Homo sapiens: one gene and its partner. The protein of the gene in region 2 purifies or fractionates together with the protein of the main gene of each other region. This does not show direct contact. Each region holds a gene or a part of one and is shown on either strand. Other genes may lie near its edges.

Region 1 (3,265 bases), on a different chromosome or scaffold from region 2:
AGAGTACCACTTTAGTTTTAAATGCTAGTTTTATAAAAATTAAAATCTGAAAAGAGGGCACAAACACATACAGAAATAATCATGGCTTCTCGAACATGCGTCTCATGCTTCAATCATCTGTATTCAGCTTGCTCCAGACCAGGGGCTCCAGCCTGCAGATCAGCCAACAGATATGAGACGCAGGTGTGAGGAAGAAGCACAGGAAATTGTTCGGCATGCAAATTCCTCAACAGGACAGCCCTGCGTTGAAAATGAAAATCTGACAGACTTAATTTCCAGGCTTACAGCTATTTTGTTACAAATTAAGGTAAATCTTAGAGAAAATATTTTCTTAATTTGACACAAAGCAACCCACGCTAATTTGTTGCTAAGAAATTAATTCATTGATTATATCAGGTATTTTATGACTATATTTGAGCTATAATGCAATTAAATTTTGAAATTTTTTTCCCTTTAGTGTCTAGCAGAAGGAGGAGACCTGAATTCCTTTGAATTCAAATCACTTACAGACTCATTAAATGATATCAAGAGTACAATAGACGCTTCTAATATCAGGTAATTCGTTAGGTATACTCTAATCATTTTAATGTGAAGTTCATAGTAATTTTCAGTCCAGGTTTTAAGAATTATGCATATTTGTGAAGTACTCATATATTATTATCCGTTAAATATATTTGTAAGAGCTTTTCACTTATATCCAGCCTATGGACAGAATAGAAATTTCACATGGATTTTGTATATAAAGAAATCAGGACATATATTTAGGTTTGGGGTCAGCATGGAGGTTGAGCTTAGAGGTAGAGCTTCCCCAGTCAGTGAGAGACTCATCTTCTCCTTCCAGCCCCCCGTGGCTCCTTTGCTTCTTTAGAGCATATTTGTTCAACTACTACTGAAGTAGAATTATGGCTAATATATTAGAGGAGATTTATTCCTTCCCTAAGATTTATCATAGCTGTTTCCTAACTAAAATTCAGGTCTTCTTTTAAAAATTTTTTTCTTAATTTTTTGAAATAAAGTAGTTAACCATGTTTCTTCTTTCTTTAGTTGCTTTCAGAATAATGTAGAAATCCATGTTGCACATATTCAGAGTGGCCTGAGCCAGATGGGAAACTTACATGCCTTTGCAGCAAATAACACCAACAGAGACTGAGTAAAGATTTCATTATTCCAACTGCACGGGACATTGTTTTTGAGAAGTTCTTTTCCTTTATATAGGCTTCCAACACCAAATAACCTAACTGCTGGAAAACAAGGGAAATTTAAATCTCCAAATAAGGCATTTTAATAGACTGTACTGCTTCTTAAACCAGCATTGCTGACCAGCATTATATTTATTTTTCTTTTATTATTCAGATGCAGTAGCATTGCTTATGTTACATATGTTTATATTCACAAATATTTTTAAACTGAAATATCTGAACATAATATAATTTCGTGGAAGAATACATTGACCATTTTTTTTAATGTGCATGAATTCACCGCAACACATGCAGACAACTGCTGCAATGGAGAGTATGAAGAAACCTGGTCTTTTTATTCATGTCGGTGGCAGTGTGGAAATTCCATCCAGAAAATTACAACTCCACTTGATTTAGTTGATCACCATCTCAGTCTTCAAAAGATAACATCATGAGGTGTGGGAAGTCCTAGTTTTAAGGAAACCACTGAAATATAGATGGGAAATGTGGACTTTACAAGTATATGTTATATATACTTGCAATGTGACATGGTTCTGTAGATCATTTTATAATAATAAATATTTTAATTTATCATAACATATAAAAGAAACCTTTGTTGTTTGTTGAAAGAAAATGAAGGAACAGGGGGAAAAAAGGTGCAAAATGCTAAATTTCTAAAAATGGATTTGGCATGTCTTCCCATCAGTTCAGGTCAAAAGTGCATTGTTGTGAGATTTATTAAAAAAAAAATGATAACACACTATTTTCATATTTTTTTGTTTATTTGCACAACTTTTAAACCAGATTACTGGTTAAAATCCAACAGTACACAATTTATAAAGTAAAAAGATTTTATAAGGAAAACAAATATAATAACCAGTGCTGTGAAATGCAGAAGAAAGGCTTGTTTTGGTTGTTTTTCTTTTTTAGGAAAACGCTGCCTAAAATGTTAATCTTGTAAAAAGTATGTATTTGGAATTTTCTTCGTTTTAATAGAATATTATAAACTCAAAATATAAATTTTTTTCAAATTTGGAGTTTAAGATATAGCTGTAGAGGTGGTTTTAATTCCTTTAGATGTCTCATAAAATGAGACTTTTTATATGTTAATGTATAATAAAACTGAAACAAGATTATTTTCCATTTGAAATTTTTGTATAGTTTAAAAAGGCTTCCGTATTCTTTGTTGGTATTGTGCCACTGCAGAACTTTAGTGCAGAGTTTATATTTAGCTAAACTGTTATGTTAATTAAGAAATGCATAAATCTTCTATTCTTAATATTTGTAATTCTAAATAAATTGATCTATGAAAATTATTATTTTCTATATTTTCATTTAATTCAAGTCAATATGCATTCCTTCTGTTTAAAAAGTTTTGAAGAATTGTAATTTCCATTAAGTTATATTTTTAGGGGAAACAGTACAGATTACCGAGTCTCTCTGAAGTACCATACCATCCAATGGTATGGATTTTATTTATTACCATACCATACCATCCAGTGATACGGATTTTATTTATTACCATACCATCCAGTGGTATGGTATTAAGCAGGTAAGTTATTTGGCCTGGTATAGACCTAGTGAAAGGTTGATTTTAATATATTCTGCCTAGAATTGGGTATTTTGTGCATTTTTTCTTTTACATTTCTTTTTTTTTTTCTCTGTCGCCCAGGCTGGAGTGCAGTGATGCAATCTCAGCTCACCACAACCTCCAGGTCTTGGGTTCAAGGGATTCTTCCACCTCAGCCTCCTGAGTAGCTGGGATTACAGGCACGCGCCACCACGCCTGGCTAATTTTTGTATTTTTAGTAGAAACAGAGTTTCACCGTATTGGTCAGGCTGGTCTCGAACTCCCAACCTCAAGTGATCCACCTGCCTCAGCCTCCCAAAGTGCTGGGATTACAGGTGTGAGCCACCATACCCGGCCTGTCTTACTTACATTTCTTAAGGCTTATTTGTCACACTTAAATAGTACCTCATTTTACACATATTTAATTGAGCACTGTTTATCTTTCAGTGCCTTCATGTGTTGACAGCAGGGACTGTGCTGGAGAATACAGTTGAATTTTATTTCTGTTTTGGGAGGA
Region 2 (4,011 bases):
TTTTCAGTTCCACTATTTTAACACTACTTTTTAAAAGACATGCAAGCGTATTAAAATTGTAGGCAGAATGCAATTGATTATATTCTATAGTTTTTATTAATGTTTCCTTTGGAAATCTACCCTAATAATATGAAATAGTATCAAGATGCATTTTCTTTTCTTCAAACATGGACTCAAAACATCACATTAACTCTACAGTTAGCTTATACCCAGATGGAAGAGGCTTCTAAAATGGGTTTCCATTTTCTCTCTTCTTCTCTCAAGGGGGAAAAAAAGGAGTAGGAGCTCTAACTTAGTGTAGAGGAGAGGTATCACGTGCTTATGCCAAATTAAAAAAAGTAAAGTTGGGGTGCAGAATATCGTCTATGATGTTAGGAAGAAACAGGAGTCAGAAAGCATTAAGAACAACATGGACTGAGAATCAGGTAGTCTAAGTTACTCTAGTTTCTCAACTATAAAGTAGTGATAGTATCTTTCTTGCCCACTTTTCAGGCCTCCTGTGTGATGACACAATTTTAAAATATAAAAGAAAACCACTTAAGGTTTACCTACTTAACTTTGTAGAAGTTTTTGTTAATTTAACAAGTGCTAACCAAAGTAAAAAATATTCAAAATGTTTTCACATTTCAAACATGCTTAAATTCCTTATGTTGACTTCCAAAGAAAGCTTAGTTCAATGAAACTAATCAATTTATTCCATAAGTGATCTATCTGGAGCCTGGCAAATAGACAGTATTTAATAAATATCCACCTTAAAAAAGTAAAAACAACCTAAGGTCATACCCGGTCACATTGTTTTAAGCGTAAAAGATCCCAAATGTGTTAAATACAATACAAAGGGAGTAATAAAGCCCCATCGGTATGGAGAGTATCTGCAGTTTTCATCCCATAATTTAAGAATTTTAAGTAACTTCTTCATAGTAACAATAAATTCACTATAGTAACTGTATTTTAGTTCTTTCTTAAATTACCATCGACTTCTTTTTCTATTAGGTCCATCCTGCTGGTAACTTCGTTCTGCACATTTTCTATGTGTGTAAGGAGATTGAGCTGCCACTGAAGATGTGAGTCTCCTGGGTCTTCGGTGCCCTTTTTATCATTATAAACAAATACTGTATTCCCTTCAGCTGGATTCTTCTCCAAAGGACCATTGGAAAATAAACACAAAGAACGGGATGAAATGCAGTCATTGAGTTAAGGATACAGGAAACACCTCATCACTGGTAACAGTTAGTGAGATCCAATCTGACTCCAGGGGTATCTTTAAAGAAGTACTGCTACATAACCAAATTCCAGCTGGTGGTTCTTAAGAGCTGATGCACCCACCACCTCCCTCCACTATGCCTCGCATGGTGCTACACAGGCAAGAAGGCTTCAATAAAATGCGCTAAATAAATGAAGTCACTAATTCTATTGTGTAATTAGAATTCCTGATTAATTTAGACTGGCCTCTTCCTCAATTAATCTCAGCTGGTGATATAAGTGGACATAAGAGTGGAAAGCAATGATGAAAAGAAATCAAGAGCGTTTCCAAAGACCAGTATAAAATCTAATTAACTACAGACTGGACTTTACTGTTATAGTACAGTAAATCAATGAAGGGAGGGAAAGGCAAAAACCTTTTACAAGTTTCAAAAGTACAAACTGCTTCACACACACACACACACACACACACACACACACAATGTGCGTTTGGATTTGCCAGAGATAACTCATTTTGCACATGGGATATTAATTAAACAAAATAACTTACCACAAACTTTATGATACGAAATACAAACGTTCCAATTCACTTAAGTACTTATTTATGGTAATTACTTGTTAAGGAATGCAGAAAAAAAACATCTAATTTTAAAGTGGCCTCATTAATTGAAAATCAGTAAAAAATAAAGGTACATTTCTAAGATAATCCCAGTGAACAGGAAATAAGTTTATAGATGTCCAATGCACATAGATCTGTCAGAATTCACCTTACTGAATAGTGGGATGCATTGACAAACATGCTAAAATTTTTTAAACAGACAATTAGAGTGCCACCTTTTATCTAACTCACATAAAGAGGAAGACAAATCATTACACCCATATGTACTTTCACATTCTTACACACTGACATTTTCGTTTTGAATACAATGTGGTTCATTTTTTAGAAGCATCGAAATGTACTTATACAATTGAAACTTTTGTTAGAGTAACAGTTTATTGAATTACTACAATTCTGAATTAGGAGATAATCAAATGTTCAAATGGCCAGTGTTTTCCTGTAGAGAAAACAAAAAAATCTCCTTACTTTAACAAGGTACTGGGGAACTTGGAAATACAACTAAAATCTGGGAATTCAGTATGCCTTATTTTATAAAATTTTCCTTTGTTCTTCTCTCATAGTTTCCAAGCAAAGAAAAATGAACTAGTTTTACCTTTTCAGGCATTCCATGTTCTTTTGCTGAGTACTGTAAACTGTTTTTACTTCTCATGTGGAATTCTTGTTCTTCTTCCAAACTACTAACATCATCATCATCTGAGCTCCCAGGGTCTGCGAGAGATTTACAGTCCTGACCAAAACTTTGTGGCTTTTGATAGCTATGCTCACTTGTTATATAAGTTCCTTCCATTTTTAGGGGCAAACGAGGTGGTTCTTTATGGTTCTGTACATATTTCTTTTCTTCTCGATTAACTGTGTCTTGAGCTATTTTTTTCTCCACCCCAGCTATTATTTGATCTTGGTCTTTTCGCTTCCCGGAACAAGCCCAGAGATGAAGGTCAGGATGATGTTTATTCCTTAAAACAAAGTTGGAAAAACAGCAGTTCAGAAAAAAAAAAAAATCTATTAACAAGCTGAATACAATGATCTATTTCAGAATTAGGTTAGGAGGACATCTAGGACTCAAGACAAAAGCAAAGGTAATCTTTAAATTAACTCCCTCCATGATTTCATCCAAAATTTGAATCTTCTCAATTAAAGAAATAATACTCAGAAAAGCAATAACAAATTTAATTGTGTTGATAGTTCACATCATCATTTGATACATGCATTTCTTTTTCTACTGATTTGTCATTGTCATTTTCATTGTAAAATTTGAAAAACTTTAATGTGAGCATATTTTAAAAACTTTTATTCAGTCAAAAAGTGATAACTCCTGATGACAAAAATCCTAAATATAAATGCACAGAAAGTAAAAATTTCCTCTCCCATGGCAAACATAAATAACTGAGGTATAATCTTCCAGACTTTTTCTGTATACCTAAAATTAGTTCTTAAATGGATAAGTATACACATCTTCTTGTGACACATCCAGGACACATACAATCTGCCTTTTTGTACGTAACATGCTAGGGGCATCTTGCCATATCATGTCATACAGATAGATTTCCCTTACTTTTACTCTAGGGCTGAAGAGTTACAAATGTACCAGTCGAGCCAACCAATTCCCTACCATTATATGTTTGTGTACCTGTGTGTGTCTTTGCACACAAGTCAGAATATTTCAGTCAGATAAATTTCTAGATATGGGATTGCTGGATAACATGCACATTTATTTTGATAGGTACTACCCAAGTGACCTCAAAAGGGATTATACTAATTACAACCCCATCAACAATCTTTGATAATGCCCATTTACTTCATCCTCACTGAACATGTAAGCATGATATTGTACAGTTAATTCTGCAGTAAGTAAAACAGGAATCCAATCATCAGAGCTGAAGTGAAAGGGCATTCGGGAGATATAAACCTTTCAAAAGGCTCAATAATGTTTGCATATTAATAATTTCCAAATTAGATACATACTGAGTCAAATTAGTTCTCTTCCAATAATACTCAAGTATTGTTTCTGAAATTATAAATTTTATCATTTGAATCCCTAGTAGTTTAATATTCAGAAAATACTAAAACACTCAATCAGTAAAAGGCATAGTAGAAGAAAAGCTGGCACTGCAGTCCAATAGTCCAAGGGGTTGAATTCTGCTGTGCCATAGAGAAGCCTGAACAAGTTACAAAATCTCTTTCACTACCCA

What was found.
Region 1: the proteins of PHF20L1 (region 2) and LIN9 purify together in Homo sapiens (affinity purification with mass spectrometry; 2 studies listed by BioGRID and IntAct, with this or other methods). This does not show direct contact.

The regions. Positions count from the first base shown.
Region 1 is NC_000001.11:226,230,386-226,233,650, reverse strand, and holds the end of LIN9 (protein lin-9 homolog), read left to right. Parts: intron 1-127; coding exon 128-307; intron 308-457; coding exon 458-555; intron 556-1,044; coding exon 1,045-1,150; 3' UTR 1,151-2,494; downstream 2,495-3,265. UniProt on the Homo sapiens protein: Acts as a tumor suppressor. Inhibits DNA synthesis. Its ability to inhibit oncogenic transformation is mediated through its association with RB1. Plays a role in the expression of genes required for the G1/S transition.
Region 2 is NC_000008.11:132,841,279-132,845,289, reverse strand, and holds part of PHF20L1 (PHD finger protein 20-like protein 1), read right to left. Parts: intron 2,776-4,011; coding exon 2,415-2,775; intron 1,138-2,414; coding exon of another isoform or gene 1,135-1,137; coding exon 972-1,134; intron 1-971.